3 linked regions of the Homo sapiens genome follow. The protein of the gene in region 1 purifies or fractionates together with the protein of each later gene. This does not show direct contact. Each region holds a gene or a part of one and is shown on either strand. Other genes may lie near its edges. The genes, in order: LDLRAP1, NLN and CCDC85C.

Region 1 (7,716 bases):
TTGTAATCCCAGCACTTTTGCAAGGCCGAGGCAGGCGGATCACGAGGTCAGGAGTTCGAGACCAGCCTGATCAACATGGTCAAACCCCTGTCTCTACTGAAAATACAAAAATTAGCTGGACGTGGTGGTGGGTGCCTGTAATCCTAGCTACTCAGGAGGCTGAGGCAGGAGAATCACTTGAACCTGGGAGGCGGAGGTTGCAGTGAGCCGAGATGGCACCACTGCACTCCAGCCTGGGCAACAGAGCTAGACTCCAACTCAAAAAAAAAAAAAAGATGGAGCTAGACTCCATCTCAAAAAAAAAAAAGTGTATATATATATATATATATATATGCAACATATACATCACTTACTATATGCCAGGCAGAATTCTAAACATGTCACAAACATTAACTTTTGTTAATGTCCCAGCCTGTAGGTGGGACTACAGGCGCCTGCTACCACACCCAGCTAATTTTTGTATTTCAGTAGAGAAGGTGTTTCACTATGTTGGCCAGGCTGGTTTCAAACTCCTGGCCTCAGGTGATCCACCCACCTGGGCCTCCCAAAGTGTTGGGATTACAGGCGTGAGCCTCGGCACCCAGCCTACATTAACTTTTAATCCTCATGATGACTCCATGAGGTGTAATCCCCATTATTCTAGTCTATTCAGGCTGCTCTAATAAAAATACCAAAGGCCGGCTGCCTTATAAACAACAAAAATGTATTTCTCACAGTTGCAGATGCTGGGAAGTTCAAGTTCAAGGTGTTGGCATATTCGGTCTGGCGAGGGCCGGCTTCCTGGTTCATAGATGGCTGTCTTGTCACTGTAAGAGTGAACAGGGCCAGGAATCTCTCTGGGGTCTTCTTTATGCTCATCCCATTCATGAGGGCTCTGCTTTCATGAAAGGATTACCTCCCAATGGCCCCATCTGCTGATACCTTGAAGGTTAGGATTTTGACATACGAATTTTGATAGGACAGAAACATTCAGTCCATTGCACCAATTTTACATTTTAGAGGAAACTGAGGCCTGTGGAATTTAAATAATTTGCCTAAGGCCATGCAGTAAAGAAATAGGGAAGCCTGGATCCCGGGATGCAGCATCAGTGTGCTTCACTACTGCGCTCTGGTGTCTTCCACTAATAACTCCCATTTTACAGATGAAGAAACAGAGGAAGGGATTGGCTCAGGGAAGTAGGGAGGACAGACCACCTGAGGAAACCAGGGACTCTCATCCCAGCTTAGGCTTTTGTCTTGGTCCCACTGCAAGCCCAAATGATGGCTGGAGAGAGGCTGACAGCCCTGTCAACTCCTTGGCATCCACTATCTCGCTGGGGTCCTGTGGGTCCACTGAGGAAGAAATTAGTAAGATTGTAGCTGATGCCATTTGACTAAAGACAAAAGCCATTTATTCTTATAGGTAGCTCCCCGACCCCGTTTATTGTTCTTTTTCTGATTACTAAAGGAACATGATCACTGCAGAAATGTTTACAAAGTTAGAGCAGATAAACAGAAAACCAAACAAAAGAGAAAAGAAAAATCCCCTTTCAAGCCCCTCTTGAATCTCAGGACTTATTTTTTTCTTTTCTTTTCTTTTCTTTTTTTGAGACGGAGATTCGCTCTTGTCGCCCAGGCTGGAGTGCAGTGGCGTGATCTCGGCTCACTGCAACCTCTGCCTCCTGGGTTCAAGCGATTCTCCTGCCTCAGCCTCCCGAGTAGCTGGGATCACAGGCATGCGCCACCACGCCCGGCTAATTTTGTATTTTTAGTGGAGACGGGGTTTCTCCACGTTGGTCAGGCTGGTCTCAAATTCCCGACCTCAGGTGATCCGCCTCAGTCTCCCAAAGTGCTGGGATTACAGGCACGAGCCACTGCACGCGGCCCTACTTCTTTGCCTCCTCCTCGTTGTTATAAGCATCCAAGGTGGGAGGCAGGAGACCTGGCATCTGTTCCTGGCTTGCTGTGTAACCTTGCGTAAGTCCCTGTCCCTCTCTGGGCCTTAGGCTCCTCATCTGTGAAATGAGGGTTTGGCCACAGTGACCTCAGAGGAGGCCACTCGCAGCTCTGACCTTCTGTTTCTGCTTCTGTTTCTGGGATTGGCAGAAGGGGCACTAGCAGGCTGCCCCTCTGCAGGGGACACATGGCTGACAGCTCGCAGCAAGCCATCTCCGGGAAACTGCAAAGGCTGGTAAACAGTTCTCGTTGCACACGCAGCGTTCCCAGGCCTTCCTGCTTATCAGGCCCATATGGTGCCCCCTGCCAGCCGGACACCACCAGCTGCCCTTGGCCAGTCTGCCCTGGGTGATCACTTTTCCTCCCTGCTTCAGAATGCTCTCTCTACTATTCCAGAATCTAGCTGGCTTGGGATAAGTGAGCTGGGGGCACTCAGCCCTGTGGACCCATCTACCTATTGCCACAGCCCTTTTGCAGAAGGCAGCCTGGTTTGGTGAAAAGCTGGAGAAAGGGAGAAGGGGAGGAAAGGAGGGAGGAAGGACAGGAACACTGACTGTGTTCCAACTCCATTTGGACCCCTTACTAGGCATTTGGGATTCAGAAATGAATCAGAAAAACTTCCTGCTTTTGGAGGGTACAAAGTCTAATGGAGATGAGAGGAGTATAAACAGGCAGCAGTAGTGCTTGCAATCCTGAAAGTTCAGGACTGTGGGCGCCCACAAAGAGAAACTTAATCCATGGGTGGTAGTCAGGGAAGCCTTCCTGGAGGAGGCAACTTTAAAGGTGGGTTCTCAAGAACAGGATTCAGCCATTCCAACTCCTGTTATTTAGTCCTTAAGGACAGCCCTGTGAAATAGATATAGTTGTCCCTTTTACAGATGAGGCTCAGAAGGGTGAGTTCACAACCACCAGAAGGACAGCTGGGTTCTAACCCCTGGCATTATACTCTACCCCATTGCCTATGGGCCTGAGTCTGATCCCAGTCTCTGACTCTCGGAGACTATCAGTGAATGCTTCCCTCCCTGACCTAGGGCTGTCATCTGTAAAGTGGGTCCACCTAAGCAGTGTTGCTGGGGAAGCCAAGGACAGACTGGCTAACAAAGCACTTGGTTTATAAACAGGGGAATGTCAGTGAGGCCGCCCTATCCAGCTGGGGACAGCACAGCACTATCTTTCTCCCGACACAGAGAGGACTGCTGGCTTCTGAGCCAGGAGTAATTACAGAGGTTGAAGTTGGCCTTGCCTGAGGCACCCCCTTCTAAAAGAAGCCAGGCTGTGGCTTGGATGTGTGTGTCCTCCCTCTGGCTCCTTTTGGCACAGTTTGAAAGGAAGGCATGGCATCCTAGAGAGTTAGAACAAATCCTTCCAATCCTGGAGTTAGAACATCTGTGCCTGAGCAATTCTGGGGTTCAGACTGCCCTCCGAATGCTCCTAGGAAGCAGCTTGGGGTCAGGGTCAAGGTCATGCAGATTCTTGACCCTGGCAGGTTGGAAGGATCACTAGAGATAGCATTGACTCTCATTCACAGATAAACAAGACTCAGAGAGGGGAAGTACTTGCCTGAGGTCACACAGCAAGTCAGTGTCAGGGGCACGTTCCAGATCATACCATCTGTGAGGCTACCTGGGAAGTTGCGGGGGCATGGGGTGGCCCAGCATGCTCAGGTGGTGCCAGGGAGCAGCCTGGGAGCTACGAGGATGAGTAAAGTGCCTGGCTGGACTTGCTAAAGGCAAATTTTTATATACCGACCCTGCGCCTAACAAGGGTCTATACTGCAAGCTTGTCCAACCTGTGGCCCACTGGCCATGTGAGGTCCAGGACGGCTTTGAATGGAGCCCAACACAAATTGGTAAAGGTTCTTAAAACATTATGAGATTTTTTTGGGCAGGGTGTGGTGGCTCACAGCCATCCCAGCACTTTGGGAGGCTGAGGCGGGCAGATCACTTGAGGTCAGGAGTTCGAGACCAGCCTGGCCAACATGGTAAAACTCCATCTCTATTAATAATACAAAAATTAGCCAGGCATGGTGGTGCATGCCTGTAATCCCAGCTACTCGGGAGGCTGAGGCATGAGAATAGCTTGAACCCGGGAGGTAGAGGTTGCAGTGACCCGAGATCGCACCACTGCACTCCAACCTGGGCAACAGAGTGAAACTCTGTCTCAGGGGAAAAAAAACAATACAGAAAAACAAAAAACATGAGTGTGTGTGTATATATATATATTTCAGCTCATCAGCTGTCGTTAGTGTTAGTGTATTTCATGTGTGGCCCAAGACACTTCTTCTTCCAATGTGGCCTAAGGAAGCCAAAAGTTTGGATATCCCTGGCTTACAGCCTCCACTATTTCCTAAGTCTCCCACTGCCCTGGACATCGCATTGCTTTTGTCCCTGAACAAGATCTTTCACCACTGGAGGAGCCCTCAGTCTCCCCATCTGTAAAATGGTCACTGGAAATCCTAGGCCGCTGCTCTCAGGCCCTCAGGCCCCTACGGGGTGGGGATTGGGGAAAAGGAGGAAAGCGGGGGCGTCTAGGGCTTGCGATTTGCTATCTTCTGGCGCCTTCGGGCGGCCTCGGAAACTCTTGGTGCCTGGACCTGGAGCCTGGACAGGGACCGGGCGGGGCGAGACCGGCCGTCGGGGGCGCGGCCCGTCTGGGGGCGGGGCCTGTCCTCTCTCGCCCCGCCCCGTCGGACGCCGCGGCGGAGCTGGCGCTGGGAGGGGAGGAGCGCGCAGCCCGCGCGCCGCAGGGCCGGGCGGAAAGTTTTTCCTGACGGAGTTTTGGCTGCGGCAGCGGCGGCGGCGGCCGGAGCGGGCCATGGACGCGCTCAAGTCGGCGGGGCGGGCGCTGATCCGGAGCCCCAGCTTGGCCAAGCAGAGCTGGGGGGGCGGTGGCCGGCACCGCAGTGAGTGTGCGCGCGTCAGCCGGGCCGGGCCGGGATCGGGCAGAGGCGCGCGGGGCCTCCGCGGGCGCCCGGAGTGCGGCCAAGTTGGGCAGAGGCGGGGCCTCACCGGCGCTCCGGTCCCGGCGTGGCCCTTTCCCGGCCCTGCGGGGCAGGGGGTCGGCCGGGGTCAAGTTGTGCACCTACTCGCCGGCCGCTCGATGCCGCTGCGAGGAGGGGCAGCGCTGAGGAAGGAGCCCGAGCTCGGGGTCCTCAGGTGCAGCCGGCATGGGGTGGGGTGCAGGTTGGGAGAAGAGGCCCCCGCCACCCGCGGCACCTCCCGCCCTGCTGTCCTGGCCAGCTAGGGGGAGGCAGGCGCTCGTCGTCGGTGCCTAGGGGAGGAGGAGAGGGCGCAGGGGCTTGGGAAGACGCCCCCGTCCCGCACCCCTGCGCCCCAGCCAGCAGCTGCGGCGGTCAGGAGCCCACTGGCCCGTTCTCCCGCCCCCTGCCCGACCCACCGGGCCAACTTTTGACTCCGGGTGCCCAGACACCCATCCAGGTGTGAGCCCGGGGTCGCAGGTACGTACTTGAAATTGGGAACGAGGCCCCGCCTGGGGTGCCTCGGGAGAGCCCCACATCAGGCGATCTAGACCCTTACGTCCCTTCCTCTAGCCGGGTCCAGGTGGCAAGCCTGGCGTCCCGACTATTTTTGAAACCTGTTTTCTCTCGCACCTTTCCCCTCGGGCTTCCAGAGTCCCTTGGGTGCCCAGGCAAACGACAGACTCGCCGCCACCTCTCCCTGGGGCGTCTGGGAGGCTGGGAGGGGCCTCCCCCCCTTTCTCTCCCCCAGTCTCTGATTACGCTCAGGGAACTTGTCACCTGGCACCTTCCCCTGAAGCCAGAAGACCCAGCCTAGCGCAGGTCTCGTTGTTTGGGAGGGAGAAGAGAGTGGCTTGCCTGGGGTCACACACACCTTCCTGCTGGTTTTGGAGCCAGAGCCCAGGACTGCTGCACACTCCCACCTCCCTGCCACCTACTTCGGGCCACAGCTTCTCCCCTCATCAGGAAACAACTGACAGTACAGCACCCCCTCATCCCATCCCCTCTTGGCCTTACAGGGCTCTGCCAGGGGAGCCCGAGCTCCCTGGTCCAAGGAGTGCCAGCGTGTCTGGGCCTAGAGGGCCCGCCTCCCTCCTCCTCTGGCCCCACTCTGTTGTTCAGCTGTGGCCGCCTCCCAGCTGAGACTGGCATTGGCATTGGGAATGTGGGGTGGTGCCTGCTGGTGGGGGGTGGGGTCAGAGACCCATTAGGGCTGGGCCACTAGGCCAGGGGATGTACCGTTTATCACACTGATTGCATCCCAAAATAGACCCTTTAAAAACTGGCAAGATTTGACCAGGACTTCTGAGATGGCCATCTGTTCCAGTGGGAGAATCCTGCGGGTTTTCTCCAGGAATGAGGGAGGGAGGGTGGTGGGGCAGCCCCCAGGGAAGTGGTTTTGAAGGAAGGGGGGCTGGCAAGGGAAGGGAGGCTAGAAAGAAATATCTCTGAATCTGGGGACGTGGAAGAGGTAGCCGCTTTGGATGTGGAAGAGAATTTCTCTTGCCATCTTCAATCTTGAGCAAGTCACTTGTCCTTTCTGATCCTCGGTTTCCTCATCTGCAACATGGGGATAAAAACTCTTACCTGGCAGGAGTATCAAGGAGATTATTGGTAATAATGCTCCCTCCTAACTGGTGGCTTTCTTCTCCCCTGCTCCTCTTCCCCCTGCCTATCCTTGGGACGCTGCCAGCATGATTAGTACTGTGGTGAGATGGGTTTTGGGGGCCCCGAGCCTGTCTGCACCTTTGGAGGAAAGGAGAGGAGCACCTCTCCCCCTCCTCCAGGCCCTGGTAAGCCCAAAGTGCTGTCCTGGAGCCTCTGGATCTGAAGGAGGGCAGGCCGAGCCCCACCTGTCCCTCGTGATGAAGTCTCAATTTCCTCACCTGTAAATTGCAAATAACAGTAGTACCTGCCTCCAGCTGTTTGTGGGGATCAAGTGGAATTGCGTTTGCCTGGCATAGAGGAGGAGTTTGGTAAATGGTAACTGCTGCTTTTGTAACTGTTTTACAACCTGTTTTTGCTTCCATTCTCTCATTGACTCCTGTGAGGTGACAGAGCAGACCCATTTTAGAGACAAAGGAACTGAGACTCTGAGCATTGGAGTCATTGGCTCCAGACACAGAGCATCTAAGAGGCAGAGCTCCACATTCCTAGCGCAGGGGTCTTACCAGTGTGCTTGGTGAACTCTGCCATGGGAGGAGCTGGGAGCAGGCCCCACCTACCCCACGCTGGGCTGGCAGCCTCTGACAGCAGTGGCCACAGGTTAGAGCAGGGGCCATGGGGTATGTGGGGGTGGGGGTGCTAGGGTCACCTTGCTCAGGGTTGTGACCCAGCCTGGCCTTGGACCTGGTCCCTGTGGTTGAGTTTTGAGGCCAAACTGAAGCCAGTGGAGTTAAAGTTAGACTCGAACCCTGCTCTCAGTTGTGACCTGCTCCTCCTCCTCAAGGTCCTCACTAGGATTAGCATGAGCATTGCTTATTTGTGGAGAAAGAAGCCCAGAGAAGGGCAGCACCTTGCCTGAGGTCACACAGCAAAGCCAGCACCCCAGGCTTCTTTCCACCCAGCTTCATGCCTGCAGTGGATTCCTGGTTGTCCTGACCTTGAAAGAGGGCTCTCTTCCTCTCCCACACATGGCTTTTCCTATCCCCTGGGGAGACATCAATATTTTATCTCAGTCCCTGGCCAGGCATTTTCCTTCCAGCTGCCTGGAAGAGGGGCTCACCTTGGCCCCTCAGCACTCTTTCCAGAGGTACTGGGATCATTCAGGCCCTCCGGTTATTTTGTGGGTTGTGCTTACCCAG
Region 2 (7,099 bases), on another chromosome or scaffold:
ACCCTTGGGTGAAGCAGAACGAGAGTTTATTTTGAATTTGAAGAAAAAGGAATGCAAAGACAGGGGTTTTGAATATGATGGGAAAATCAATGCCTGGGATCTATATTACTACATGACTCAGACAGAGGAACTCAAGTATTCCATAGACCAAGAGTTCCTCAAGGAATACTTCCCAATTGAGGTGGTCACTGAAGGCTTGCTGAACACCTACCAGGAGTTGTTGGGACTTTCATTTGAACAAATGACAGATGCTCATGTTTGGAACAAGAGTGTTACACTTTATACTGTGAAGGATAAAGCTACAGGAGAAGTATTGGGACAGTTCTATTTGGACCTCTATCCAAGGTACTGAGGATCACGTTGTTGGAAGGGACCTTAGGGATTCAGCTATGCCTACTTTAAGACTCTACTCTTGGCCAGGCACAGTGGCTCATGCCTGTAATCCCAACACTTTGGGAGGCCAAGGTGGGAGGATTGCTTGAGGCTAGGAGTTCGAGACCAGCCTGGGCAACATAGTGAGGCCCTGTCTCTACAAAAAATTTAAAAATTAGGTCAAGTGTGGTGGCTCATGCCTGTAGTCCCAGCACTTTGGGAGGCCGAGGCAGGTGGATTGCTTGAGTCTAGGACTTCAAGACCAGACTGGGCAACATGGCAAAACTCTGTTGCTACAAAAAATACAAAAATTAGCCAGGTGTAGTGGTACATGCCTATAGTCCCAGGTACTTGAGAGGCTGAGGTGGGAGGATCACTTGAGCCTCAGAGGTGGAGGCTGCAGTGAGCCAAGATTGCAACACTGCACTCCAGCCTGGGTGACAGAGTGAGACCCTGTCTCAAAAAAAAAAAAATGAAAAATTAGCCAGGTGTGGTGTGCACACCTGTAGTCCTAGCTGTGCTGAAGCAGGAGGATCACTTGAGTCCAGGAGTTTAAGGTTACAGTGAGCTATTATCACACTGCTGCATTCTAGCCTAGGTGACAGAGCTAGACCCTATCTCTAAAAAAATTAATTTAAAAAAAGACTCTACTCTTCCATATTTCTCACATGGGCTTCTTAGTATACAGATTTAAAATGTGGGTCTGAAGCCAGAATGTCTGGCATCATCATTTACTAGGTAGGTTACTTAATTTTTCTGTGCCCCAGTTTTCTTACCTATATTATAGGTCCTATAAACTGGGAATATTAGTAGTACCTGCTTTGTATGGTCACTGTAAGGATTAAATTGGTTGAATACATGCAAAGCATTTAGAAGACTGCTCAGCACATAGCAAAGGCTTAATCAGAGTTAGCTGCTACCATTGTCATTATCATCATCATCTAGTTTGTGCACTACATTTACTTAATTGAATATTGACCACCACCCAGACATGGTGGCTCACACCTGTAATCCCAGCATTTTGGAAGGCTGAGGTGGGCAGATCACTTGAGGTCGGGAGTTCAAGATCAGCCTGGCCAATATGGTGAAACCCTGTCTCTACTAAAAATACAAAAATTTAACAGGCATCTGTAGTCTCAGCTACTTGGGAGGCCAAGGTATGAGAATAGCTTGAACCCTGGAACTGAGATCACGCCACTATACTCCAGCCAGGGCGACAGAGCAAGATTCTAACTCAAAAAACATAAATAAATAAAATTGAGCACCAAAATATTTATTAGATAATCTGTCTGCCAATAATCTATGGCCACTCCCTTCAGTCTGGCTGAGAGGCAGCACAGTTTAGTAGAAGTAGCAAAACCTTTGCAGTCAGTCAGATTTGAGTTTGAATGCTTGAGTGACATAACCTCTTTGAGATTCTGTTTCTTCCTCTGTAATATGGGACTGGAAATCCTTTTACAGGATTGTTTTATGCATTAAAGACTATATGTGCAAATCATCTTCCCCAGATATCAGTGGTAACAATTATAAAAATGTTATAATTGTGTCTATAGCATGTAATAACTATAGATTCCATAGTGTTTCATCAGATACAAAAGGATTTGGATCTCTTTCTCCCCAGGCTACTTTCTAAAGCAAAGTCAACCTCTTACAATTACTAATCATTTAAATAGATCAAAGGAGAGTATAGTATCCCCCTCATTCAGTAATACACACAAGTTTGTAATCCACTGACTTTGAGTGCTGAAAAGTAGGTTGAGTAACTGTGTCATCTAGTTGGTGGGCAGAAGTGTCTTTTAGCACCTAAGTGATTATCCTGGTGTATTAGTCCTTTCTCACAGTGCTGTAAAGAACTGACTGAGACTGGGTAATTTATAAAGGAAAGAAGTTTAATTGACTTACAGTTCTGCAGGGCTGGGGAGACCTCAGGAAACTTACAATCATGGCAGAAGGGGAAACAAACACATCCTTCTTCACGTGGCGGCAGGAAGGGGAAGTGCCAAGCCAACAGGGGAAAGCCCCTTATGAAACCATCAGCTCTTGTGAGAACTCACTCACTATCATGAGACTGGCTACCCCATGAATCAATTACTTCCCACTGGGTCCCTCCCACGACACGTGGGGATTATGAGAACTACAATTCAAGATAAGCTTTGGGTGGAGACACAGCCAAATCACATCACCTGCTGCTTTATGGACTTACTTTCACTAATATTATGACCTAAAAGTAAAACCCTGCCAAATATAGATGAGTCTTATTTTTAAATAAAAAGTATCAGGATATAGTTTTAACCGAAGAACTCTTTCAGGAGTAATCCTTTAATATTGGAGTCTCCTATAACTGTCCTCAGATTTTCTTTCCAGCGTCAAATAACAATTCTTGCTACCTCATTCTGCTGTCTCACTGCCAGGATATAATTAATTTCTTTTGTACTGAGAGATCTGGTCATTGCTACCAGCACCCTGGTGTGGGTAACAGAGAGTAATCTTTGTGAAAGTAGTGACCTAGTTAATACTTACTTCCTGTCATCTTAAGATGTTCTCTTCATAAAGGTAAAAGGGATTAACTTGTTTTATTTGTCTAACTGACTTTTAAAAAGGGTATTCAGAATAGGTTTTAAAAAGACCAGGTACTGTCTGGGTGCAGTGGCTGTAATCCCAGCACTTTGGGAGGCTGAGGCAGGTGGATCACTTGAGGCCAGGAGTTCAAGACCAGCTTGGTCAACATGGTGAAACCCCATCTCTAGTAAAAATACAAAAATTAGGCTGTGCACAGTGACTCACACCTATAGTCCCAGCACTTTGGGAGGCCAAGGAGGGCAGATCACCTGAGGTCAGGAGTTTGAGACCAGCTTGGCCAACGTGGGAAAACCCCATCTCTACTAAAAATACAAAAATTAGCTGGGTGTGGTGGCAGGCACTTGTAGTCCCAGCTACTCTAGAGGCTGAGGCAGGAGAATCATTTGAACCCAGGAGGTGGACATTATAGTTAGCCAGTATCTTGCCACCGCACCCCAGCCTGGGCAACAGAGCAAGACTCCGTCTCAAAACAAGAGAACAAAATTAACCAGCGTGGTGTTGTATATATGTAATACCAGCTACTCAGGAGGCAGAGGCAGGAGAATTGCTTGAACCTGGGAGGCAGAGGTTGCAGTGAGCTGAGATCATGCCACTGCACTCCAGCCTGGATGACAGAGCAAGACTCTGTCTCAAAAAAAAAAAAATAAAAAGACCAGGTACTATTAGTCTTCTGAGCAAAAGAAAAGGGGGAAAGGACACGTACTCCCAAAATGAAGTCTGATAGCTTTTGGAGAATGAAGTCTAATAGCTTTTGGAAAGACCACACAGATACGACACTGTACAAGAATAGTCTAATTGATAGTATAATTTATGCATTTTCCCAGGCTAACTAAAAGCATTCTGTTTCAAAAAGGCCTGTCTAGTTTATAAAAGAAGCTTATTTAATTGTGATTACTGATTCTTTCCTCCTCAAATAAAAGGAAAAACCTTATCGTCAGAAATTCAGTTTTTTATTCCGATTTTAATGAAAAGGCTGCCTAGTGAGTCAAACTGTATCTTTTATTTCAAATGTGGGTTTCAGCATTGTTTAGTGTTTAGTAATCCCATCTTTGAAAAAGAAAAGTAGAACCTCATTAAAATAAATTGGACATTCAGCTGTCGGTGTGACATGCATTCTTCATTCTTACCTCGAGATTTTTCAATAAAAGAAACTTCGGAGCTCACACAGAATGTTAGTGGGGTTATTGTTTGTTTAGCTTTAGTTTTTCCATTTTAGCAAAATAACCTACTTTCTAAAAGGTAAATTAATGTTTAAAGGCATCTCTGGTAACAGATATGGCTTAATGACTGGAAGAGGCCATGCCAGTGTAGTTGCTAGAGGAGAATTTTCCTATGTTGCCAACGCGTGTTTCTGGCTCCTAGGGAAGGAAAATACAATCATGCGGCCTGCTTCGGTCTCCAGCCTGGCTGCCTTCTGCCTGATGGAAGCCGGATGATGGCAGTGGCTGCCCTCGTGGTGAACTTCTCACAGCCAGTGGCAGGTCGTCCCTCTCTCCTGAGACACGACGAGGTGAGGACTTACTTTCATGAGTTTGGTCACGTGATGCATCAGATTTGTGCACAGGTGAGTTTTTTTTTTCCCCCAGTAAACCTGCCAATTAGTTTTTTTAGAAAACTTCTTGACTGCTGTCAGGTTTCTGCTCCTAACAGGTTTTTTCAGAAGCTGAATGTGTTCAAGAATTTTATAGGCCTTCTGCAAAACCAAAATTTTCCTTATCCTGTCCTCTTTCACAACATATTTTTACTTGGAGGTTCATCTACCAGTGAAAGATGTTTGTTGAATAACAGCCTATGGAAAAAGAATAAGACTATCTGTAAGGAAAGGTTACAAATACTTTGCTTTTTCCTTTTAATCCTTTAGGAATTTGATATAAATTTCTCAGAAAAACTGTGCTGTAATCTGTCTCTTCTGCTTATCAATGCTTTGTTTACTTTAGTGGTTTTTCAATCCTCTTAGACCCTTTACTCATTTTTAAATAATAATTTTGTAACATTTGCCTTTACTAACTTCAAATTAAAATCATAGATAATATAGTCTAACCATGCAAAGAATTTGCCAGAGTGGAGGTGTATGTGTGCAGTAGATTAAAACTGATTTTTTTATTTCTGAAAATAAAAAGTACATTTATTCTCAACTTTGTAATACAGTCCATTTAATTAGGCCCAGACTATTCTAGCATGAACCATATGAACTTGCTAACATTTAACCATTATTAACATATGAAAATGTCTAGTTCAGCAATTCACCGTAATAGTTGAAATATACTGTTATTTGGCTGGGCATGGTGGCTCATGCCTGTAATCCCAGCACTTTGGGAGGCCAAGGTGGAAGGATCGCTTGAGTCTAGGAGTTTGAGAACAGCCTGGGCAACGTGGTAAAACAAACAAAAATTATCCAGGCATGGTGGTATGTGCCTGTGGTCCCAGCTACTCGGGAGGCTGAGGTGGGAGGATCACTTGAGTTCAGGAGGTTGAGGTTGTAGTGAGCCATGATTGTGCCACTGCACCACAGCCTGGGTGACAGAGCAGACCTTGACTTAAAAAAAAAAAAAAGAAAACCACCCAAAAAACTGATAGTAACAGAAATGAAGGTACAGTTTTCCAAATTTGAAATCTCTGTATGTCTCTAAAGGTAGACTTAAAAAACAACAACAACAAAAACAAAAACATTTTTATTAGGATACTTTTAGATTCATAGAAAACTTGCAAAGATGATATAAGGATTGCCTGTATACCCCTCAGCCTCTCACCCCTACTTGTAACATCTTCCATTCCAATAGCACATTTGTCATAGCTAAGAAGCCAGCATTGATACAGTACTCCAGACTGAACACCACAGTTTATTTGGATTTTACTAGTTTTCCTTAATGGTCTTTATACAGAGAATCTTCTTAAATCCATACGGTGTCCTCACTGAATATAAATAGAAGAAATTTTTGTATTTTTCAAGTGATAATGCTTGGATATGACTATGCAGTAAGACATAATGAAGTATGCTGGAGGTTTGCACTGTATGGAAGTAACCCTGAATGGAGCAGCAGCAAGTGCAAACTGATGGAAGTGGTTTATGTTGTCAGCTCAGGTCCTAGAACAGTGCTGACAATGGTGGCATGAGGTTCCAAAATGATGAACACCTCCTGGGAAACTTCAAAAGAAAGTAATCTCACTTCAACTTACACAGTAGATCCTAGTACTTGTAGTCTTAGAAATTAAAATGGTGTAAAAAATGCTTCGCAAGGCTAGGCATGGCAGCTCACACCCACAACCCCAGCACTTTGGGAGGCCAAGGGCGGCAGATCGCCTGAGCTCAGGAGTTCAAGACCAGCAACATTGTGAAACCCAGTCTCTACAAAAGATACAAAAATTAGCCAGGTATGATGACACACACCTGTAGTCCCAGCTACTCAGAAGGCTGAGGCAGGAGGATTGCCTGAGCCCAGGAGGTCGAGGCTGCGGTGAGCTGTGATCGCGCCACTGCTCTCCAGCCTGGGTGAAAAAGTGAGACCCGGTCTCAAAAGAAAAAAAAAATGCTTTGCAAAAATATGTACAGTGGGGTTAGTTTCTCGGTTTAGTTACAGCTAGTTTTTTTGATTTATGTGAATAGTCCAGCAGGGGGTATGAATGACGAGCAGGATATGGAACAGTCTTTTTGTTGTCCTGACATGTGCAGAATCAGTCCTGTGCATCCAGCATCCCTATATCCCAGAGTAGCCCTAATCATTGTAATAACCCAAAATGTACCCATTCATTTCCAAAATAATTCTGTCACCTTTGTTTAAAAACTGGTTCTTTCAACATTTTATCTTTAACCTGGTGCTTCCATCTTTTGTTTTAAAAAACAGAGGGGAATAGTATATGAGTATGTCCAGAGAAATGTCCTGATATGGCCATTTTTAATCTCTCTTTAATCCAAGGAAAATAAATCTTTCAGAATAATCTTTCTTTCTTAGGTGTTTTTAAAATTCATTTTCATAGCACTGACTGGGCGTGGTGGTTCATGCCTGTAATCCCAGCACTTTGGGAGGCCGAGGCAGGAGGATTGCTTTGACCCTAGGGGTTCAAGACCAGGCTGGGCAACATGGTGAAAACCCATCTCTACCAAAAATAAAAAAAATTAGCTGGGTGCGGTAGTGTGGCTAGGCTTTGC
Region 3 (8,070 bases), on another chromosome or scaffold:
ATAGAGTTGCAGGGAGACTGAGCTAATGACATGCAGTGTTCTATCAGTAGAAATAGCTGGAGAGCTCTGACCACAGGTGCCATCCAGAGGCGTCAGAGCCACTGAGGCTTGGTCACAACATGGAAAAGCCTGAAGCAGGAGGAAGTGGGTGGTGAACATGGGTCCAGGCACCTTGCAGACACTCAGCATCACAGAACCAGAGTCACAGCAGAAGAGACATCGCAGAGCATCCACCCCATTCCTCCTTCTTGAGAAGGGAAACTGAGGTGTGGGAGACAGTAGTCTATGGGGTCAGATACACTCTGGAGCTCAGATGGTCCTGGGTTCAAATCCTGGTTCAGCCACTTGCTAGCCATGTGACCTTGGGCAAGTGACTTAACCTGTGTGAGCCTCAGTTTCTTACTCTGTAAAATGGGAACAGAGGGTTCTTACCGCATCAGTGAGGAGTCAGTGAGACAATCTATGTGGAACTCTAGCACAGTGCTGGGTACCTAGAAAGTGCCCAGTCAACATTGTCCATATTAGTAACACTTAACCACTTTTCAGTGGACCCTGACTTCTTGCTGCTGGTAGCCTTTCAGGATGATACCTCATAGTCTGGCCCAGACCTGGTCAGCCACCATTGCCTCACTGTCCTGAAGAAGATTCAGCTACCACCAAACACTTTGTTGGCCATACCAGAGTCCTTGGGTGTCCACAAGCCTCTGAACACTGCCTGTAAGTTCACGCCCAATGAGCTGAGCTTCTTGGAGGCAAACAACCAGCCAATAAGAACCCATGTTCAATCCTCGAAGGGCTAATGACACCTCCTCATAGGTTTATTATAACCCTCAAAAGAGGACAGGTTAGAATCATTGGCATATACTGAGTCTAGGATAAGCGGCAGGTGGTGTTGGTTATTGTCATTGTCATTGCCATTATTATTAGATATCAGAGCTCCCAGGGAAAGGGTCCAGCTTCCTTCTGAGGCTTACAAAGCCCTCCTCTGCCCAGCTCCATCGCTCAACCTCTTCCCGACTTTCCCCACCCTGCTGTTCCCTTCTGTATACCCCAGCTGCAAGGTGTAATAGTGTCTCTCCACACCCCTCGCCTGCTCACCTCTGGGCCTTTGCTTGTACTGCTTCCTCCACCTGGAGCCTCCTCCCCACTCCACAAGACGACAAACTCCTTCAAGATTCACCTCCTCTAGGAAGCCACTCCCAGTGCCTGAGCATGCTCCCACAATGATGTGTTCTGCCCATTCTCATTTGCAGTACTTACCACAATGCATTGCAATGTGTATATATATATTCCCATTTAAATGTGTTTGTGTATAAATGCATATATACTCATAGATTTCCTCTATGTTCAGTGAGCTAATGAATGAAAGTGACCTTGGGCCAGGCATCTCCCTTCTGGGGCTCTGTTTTTCCTCACCTTCAAAATGAAGCCTCAGACTCAATCTGTCACGTACTGAGAGGTTTGACATTCACTCAGCAAACACCAAATGGTACTGCCTCTGGGGTTGGAGCTCACAGCCCCAACCATAGAGAAGAGTAAGAAAGTCCATTCCCCCTGAAAGTGAGGGGCACACTCTGCTTGTCACCAGCTTGTACCAGTACTCCCCCCACAGGCCCTAGGTTTTGGAGTATTTTGTCTACCATGTATTAGCATCTACCGTGTGTTAGCGTACCGGTTCTCAGCCCCTGCTGGCTCTCACAAATGTGTGTGGCTCTAAATGAACACACACATCCTGGGAGAGTCTTTAAAAAAAGGGGGGTAGAATGTTGGTGGGGCACCTTTATTTTGAAAAGACTCACAGCTACTTTCCCTGGGCACCTACAGTATGACTGTTAGTGCACCATGATTTGGTTTCACTGTTTTCATAACAAAGCAGAGTTGTCATGACCAAGGGGCTTAAGAAGCAAAGTCACTGAGGCAGGAGAATTGGATTGCTTGAGCACAGGAGTTTGAGACCAGCCTGGGAAACACAGTGAGACTCTGTCTCTATGGGGGAAAAAAGAAAAGAAAAGAAAATAGCCAGGCATGGTGGTGCCTGTGGTCCCAGCTACTCAGGAGGCTGAGGTGGGAGGATCTCTTGAGCCCGGAGGTTGAGGCTGCACTGAGCCAAGATCATGCCACTGCACTCCAGCCTGGGAGACAGAGTGAGACCCTGTCTTAGCCAAAAAAAAAAAAAAAAAAAAAAAAAAGGCAAAGTCACGTTGACATTTTGGGATCCTGGTTCTGTTGGGCTGTGAGTACTCCAGGGGGCATGGCACCTACTGCTGGACCCTGCGATATGGGCCCTCCGGGAGGGGGCTCTGGCCTGGGGAGTCCCTTTTCCTTCAGGACGCTGTTTCAGCCCTGGGCCCTCTCACCTCCTCTGGTCCTGTCCTGTTCTGCCCAAGCATTCCCAGCCCTGGTGTGGGGAGCAGAGAGACCCTCCCTCAAACCACCCAGTACCACCACCACTAGCACCTTGTCTTTGTTCTACCCTGAGGATGTGAGCAAAGCTATCAAGACTCCACAGAGGAACTCTTGGTCCTTGGTCCACACAGCCTGTAGATGACGCAAACAAACCCCACCTAGATAGAGGCTTCACTTTCTTCTTGGAAGTTCAGCGGAAGCTGCCAGCTCTGGAGGATCAGGGGGCAGAGATAACAGGCCCCAGGAACCACCAGGAGCCATGCACGAACGGGGAGGGGGTTCTCACAAAGCACAGTGCTGTCTCAGCAACTTCCCTGGTGAGCTGGTGGGTTTTTCCTATGGTGTATCCAACGTTTACGCTTCGATCTCCAGGGAGCAACTCTGTGCACAGGCTTCATTCTGCAGGGAGCCTGCAAGGAGCTCCTTGAAGTTAATATGGCTTCCTGGGGGTTGAGACAGACCTGCAGCTCCCCCAGGCAGAAGCTGAAAGCCCCTCCCTCTCTAAACCCAAACTGAGCTGTGCTGGACCAGCAGAGCAGTGCCTCAGAGGGGAGGATGTCCCCTCCCCTCAGGAGCTGGTTCTCTTGGGCAGGGCCTGGGAGACCCTCAGCATCCCTGGGGTTTAACCTTGGAAGCTGTGCTCAGCCCATCCTCTCCCCACCACCCTCCCCTGACCATCTGTCTGGAGAGAGTGGCGAACGGGTGGGAGATGAGATATTGAATCTGGACCTCTCTGTGTACTCCCCTCCATCTCTTCTCAACATGTGGGCCAGGGTGAGCCTCTTAAAAAGGTAAACCAGGTCATGTTGCTTCCCTGCTAAAACCCCACTGCCTCCCCAGCTGTCTTGGAATCATACATGATCTGGCCCCTCTGACCTCTGACCTCAGCTCTCACGCCTCTTCCCTGGCCCACCCCCAGCCCCACTGGCCTTCTTGGAACAGGTCTGTAACAGGCCAGCCCTAGGGCCTTGGCACTGGCTGTTCCTGCTGCCTGGAATGCCCTTCCCCTTATCTTTGTACCTTGCCAATCAGACTTCAGCTTAGATGTGCCTCCCCACCTCCCTGACCGCTGGATCTAAAGCAACTGATTATGCTTTCTATGACAGCAGCTCGACTTAATGCCCCGCACAGCACTTAAGACAAGTCTCATCCTGATCTAGCTCGTCTATCTTCTCCCCATCCTGCTCCCAGGACGCCAAGTCCCCCGCAGAGGGCAGTTCGGTGCCCTGCAGAATCCCCCGGGGCTGGAGCAGGCCCCGCGGCGAGTAGGCGCTGAGTACACAGCTGAATGAACGGCTTAGCAACTGTAAATGGGGCATCAGCTGCTGCGCGGGCGCGCGCTCCAGGCCGTGGGCCGCTCACTGTCGCGTGCGCGGATTTGATCTCGTTGCAGGTTCCGGGGGAGGGACCCCCCCCCGCCCCGCCCCGCCCCGCCTGCTGGCGGTAGACGCGCCGTAAATGCGCTTTGGGGACCGGAGGATAACGAGACAGACTTACAGGCAGTGGGAAGCCCGGGGGTCCCGCGAGGCCGCCGGTGGGGAGTTCTGTGGCCGGCTCGGCGCCCCCGGACCCCGGCGTTCAGGCCCCAGTGGGAGACCTTCCCACCCTTCCCAGTGGTTTCCACCCCGCGAATTGCAGATTATCTCCCGAATCCCAGGGATTTAGCGGTCGAGTGAGCGGAGGTGGAGCGGGGCTCCGAGCGCCGCTCCGGGCAGGGGGCAGGTTCCCGGAGCTCTCGCCCCATCGGGGCAGAGAGTACTGACCGCGCTGCGGGACGCGGCTGGCAAGGCCCTGGCCCTGCAGGGGCGCGGACGCCAGCGTTTAGCTCAGCCCTGGGCTAGGAGTGGAGACGCAGCCCCGCCGCGTGCTCCGGCAGGGGACCCGGGTGGGGACGGGGGCGGAGGAGCCTGGGGGCAGGGAAGGGGACAAAGAGCCGCCCTGCTGCGGGGAAGAGCGACCCCCATGTCACAGTCCTATTGTTCGCTGTGTCTCCGACTGCCCTGAACTCTGGTGCCCCCGGGAGGGAGAAGGGGCGCCGTCGCCCGGATCGTGGGTATTTGTTTATCTGGGGAGAGGGAAGAGGACCGGGGACGCGGGCCGGGGAGGGGGCTCGACTGCTATTTTCGCGCGTCGCCTTTAAGGGAAGCCCGGCCCTACCTTTCCCACCGTCCCCCTCCCCGCAGCCGTACCTGCATTTTAAAAGCGCCCTGTAGCCCTGGGATTGGCTAAGGCCGCGTCCTCCGGGCGCAGAAACTTGAACCGCCGGGAGCCGGCCGCGGGCGGGGGTCGGAAACCCCGCGGATGGACCGTACCACCGCCGCAGCTTCCCCCGCGCGCGCCCCGCCCCTCCCGCACACCCCCGGAGCGGCCCAATCGCCCGGCCGGGAGGGCGGGACCGCGGCCGGAACGCGCCTCTGAGAGGGCACTGGACGGGCGGGCGCACCGCGCAGGGGGACGGCGGGGGCCGCGCCTCTGCTCCCCAGTCGCCCTCGGGGGCGGGGCCGGGCCTCGGAGACCCGCCCACTCTCCGCCCGGGGTGGGCGGGGCGGCGGGGGCTCCGGGAGCTGGGCCGGGGGCGGGCCTCCGCCTGCTTCTCCAGAACCCTGAGAGCGCCCGGCACCGCGGCCGCCGACGCAGCAGCCGCCTCCGCTCGTCAACCCCGAGGCGCGCGGGCTCCCGGGCGGCCCCGGCGGGCGCGGCGAGAGGACGCGCCAGGCGGCGCGGGGCGGGCCGCACGCGCCCCCGGCCGCCCCCCGCCCGCGCGCGGACCGGCCCAGCGGAGCCCCGGCGCGGGGAAGCGCCGGCCGGGCGAGGGCGAGGGCGATGCCGCGGTGACGGCCCCGCCATGGCTAAGCCCGCGGCGACGGCGGCGGCGGCGTCGGAGGAGCTGAGCCAGGTGCCGGACGAGGAGCTGCTGCGCTGGAGCAAGGAGGAGCTGGCGCGGCGGCTGCGGCGCGCCGAGGGCGAGAAGGTGGGCCTCATGCTGGAGCACGGCGGCCTGATGCGCGACGTGAACCGGCGGCTGCAGCAGCACCTGCTGGAGATCCGCGGCCTCAAGGACGTGAACCAGCGGCTGCAGGACGACAACCAGGAGCTGCGCGAGCTCTGCTGCTTCCTCGACGACGACCGGCAGAAGGGGCGCAAGCTGGCGCGCGAGTGGCAGCGCTTCGGGCGCCACGCGGCCGGCGCCGTGTGGCACGAGGTGGCCCGCTCGCAGCAGAAGCTGCGCGAGCTCGAGGCGCGCCAGGAGGCCCTGCTGCGCGAGAACCTGGAGCTCAAGGAGCTGGTGCTGCTGCTGGACGAGGAGCGCGCGGCACTGGCGGCGACGGGGGCCGCAAGCGGTGGCGGCGGCGGCGGGGGCGGCGCCGGCTCCCGCAGCTCCATCGACAGCCAGGCCAGCCTGAGCGGGCCGCTGTCGGGTGGCGCGCCCGGCGCGGGGGCCCGCGACGTGGGCGACGGCAGCAGTACGTCCAGCGCGGGCAGCGGCGGCAGCCCCGACCACCACCACCACGTCCCACCCCCGCTGCTGCCCCCCGGGCCGCACAAGGCCCCCGACGGCAAGGCAGGAGCCACACGTCGGTCCCTGGACGACTTGTCGGCGCCGCCGCACCACCGCAGCATCCCCAACGGCCTGCACGGTAAGGACTACACGGGCCGGGCAGCGCGGGTCTCCCTGGCTGCAGCCCTTTTCCCAGGCTGCGGCGAGAGGAGGTGGTCCCTGGCTGTCCCACTCATGCGGCCGCCACTCCAGACTCCTCCAGCTGTCATGGATCCTGGGCCAGGGGATCCCGCACTCACCCAAAGTGGGGCTTTGGGCGGTGGTGGGCCGGTTCAGTGGTGGAGCGTCTTTTTGTCCAGCTCAGAACCTGCTGCCGGTCCGGTCCCAGAAAAGTTTCTAGCGGGTGTAGTTGCCAAAATTAGGGTCTGTCACTGCTGGGCTGGCGGTGGGCGCCTCATCCCAGCCTTGGAAATCCTTGCCTAGTAGCGGGAAGTTCTAAACAGCAAAGGATACAAGGCCCCTTGAGCGCAAGTGAATTTCCCCTCTTGCAGCAACAGGTGTCCTCCAAACCAAGCAGCGTCCACGTGTGTGCGGTGGCTGGAGTTCTGCAGTGGGGTGTGGGGATTGGGAAGGTGCACAGGCAGCCGCTTGAGACCCAGAGGCAGTTGGGGAGAGGCCTGGGGCTCAGAGCCTTTCTTGTTTGCCATAAATTCCGCCCTTCTAGTCCTGGGACCTTTCTCAGCCGAGACTCTAAGACTTTCCCGAGGGAGATGTATTTGGAACGGATTCTAGCTTTTCTCCTCTGTGTGCCTCAGTTTCTTTGTCTGTGAAATGGAGATGATGACCTCTGCCTCGTGGGTTTGAGGTGGAGATAAACCTTCTGAAGGGATTTATAAACTGTTGATCGCCTTACAGGAAGTGCCGTGGTCATCCGTGACCAGGGTGTGGGTGGGAGGAACTTTGGCCTCTGTCAGCTTCTGTCTTCTACGCCCATGTTACTGCTGCGCCCAGTGCAGAGGGTGGCCCCAGCTTGGGGCTGTGGGAGCTTGCAGCCTGCTCCCTCTCCCAGCCCCCTGCTCAGCCCTTCTGCTCCCTGCCAGCTTTCTCCTCCTCGCTGGTGGATCCGGGGCCTCCCTGTTCTTCCACGTTTTTTGGTAGCTTGGCTTCCAGTTCTGCTGGTAGTTGCAACTGCCTGAACTTTTTGCCTGAAGGTGGAGAATGAACAGCTCTTTCTGGTTCCCTTTAAAGCCTTTCCTAATTCAGAGAAAGTGTGTCTAAGCCTGCAATAACTGCCCTCCCCAGAACCCCTCAGCCTGAGCTGGGGAGGGACGTTTTCTCCTTAGTTTGGTGGCCAAGTGGCCTCTGCAGACGTGTTGGGGTGGGGGCTGGGGTGGGAGACATACCCATGGAGGTGGGGCAGGGGCAGTGCAGCATGTTTTTCCTTTATTTACCATCCTGAGCCTGTGGGTTCAAGGCAGGACTGGGTTTAGAGGGATATTTTGTTACTGATTAGCAATCTATGGCTACAACTCAGGTTTCTCTTTGTAACACTGTATCCACCCCCACCTCCCACCACAGGCTGCTTCAGGGCAGTGGGAGTAGCGCAAAGTTAGGTGGTTTAATTTGCTGGGGCTGTTCAGAGCACCTCAGCCCCTTTGATTTTGCCGTCCTGGGGGCTTTTGAGGGGTCAGTTATCTGGGCCTCGGTTTCCCTAAGTGCAGTCCAAAGAGCAGATTGCTGCAGTCTCGTGGCTGGAAAGTGAAATGTTTCTGGTTTTCAGCTGCGTCATCAATGACACTTGGCAAGAGTGCCTCTCTGCAGGACACTGGAGGGCTGGAGTGTTTAGAGCATACTTGCAGGAAAGGCTCTGTCGAGTTTTGGGCAAGGAGATGCGGCCCCAGTCTGGCTCAGCATGTCAGCTGCGACAGTGAATAATACAGGAGTGGAGGACTAGGCTACACTGAGTTTTCCACCCCACTGGGGGTCAGTGGGAGGTTGAAGTATAGGGTTTCCCACAGAACCCATCCTCCCCCAAGCCCACTTAGCACAGGACTGCTGCAAATGTTGTGGCAGCAAACCTTGCTTTGGGGTGAAATGAAAATTCAGCATTATTATTACAAATTTCGGTTACAGATGGAATTATTATTATTTAGTTTTGTCTCTTA

The links.
Region 2: the proteins of LDLRAP1 (region 1) and NLN purify together in Homo sapiens (affinity purification with mass spectrometry; 3 studies listed by BioGRID and IntAct, with this or other methods). This does not show direct contact.
Region 3: the proteins of LDLRAP1 (region 1) and CCDC85C purify together in Homo sapiens (affinity purification with mass spectrometry; 3 studies listed by BioGRID and IntAct, with this or other methods). This does not show direct contact.

What each region holds. Positions count from the first base shown.
Region 1 is NC_000001.11:25,538,950-25,546,665, forward strand, and holds the start of LDLRAP1 (low density lipoprotein receptor adapter protein 1), read left to right. Parts: upstream 1-4,656; 5' UTR 4,657-4,749; coding exon 4,750-4,837; intron 4,838-5,001; exon of another isoform or gene 5,002-5,392; intron 5,393-7,716. UniProt on the Homo sapiens protein: Adapter protein (clathrin-associated sorting protein (CLASP)) required for efficient endocytosis of the LDL receptor (LDLR) in polarized cells such as hepatocytes and lymphocytes, but not in non-polarized cells (fibroblasts).
Region 2 is NC_000005.10:65,788,140-65,795,238, forward strand, and holds part of NLN (neurolysin, mitochondrial), read left to right. Parts: coding exon 1-345; intron 346-4,314; coding exon 4,315-4,516; intron 4,517-7,099. UniProt on the Homo sapiens protein: Hydrolyzes oligopeptides such as neurotensin, bradykinin and dynorphin A. Acts as a regulator of cannabinoid signaling pathway by mediating degradation of hemopressin, an antagonist peptide of the cannabinoid receptor CNR1.
Region 3 is NC_000014.9:99,601,141-99,609,210, reverse strand, and holds the start of CCDC85C (coiled-coil domain-containing protein 85C), read left to right. Parts: upstream 1-5,003; 5' UTR 5,004-5,251; coding exon 5,252-6,044; intron 6,045-8,070. UniProt on the Homo sapiens protein: May play a role in cell-cell adhesion and epithelium development through its interaction with proteins of the beta-catenin family. May play an important role in cortical development, especially in the maintenance of radial glia.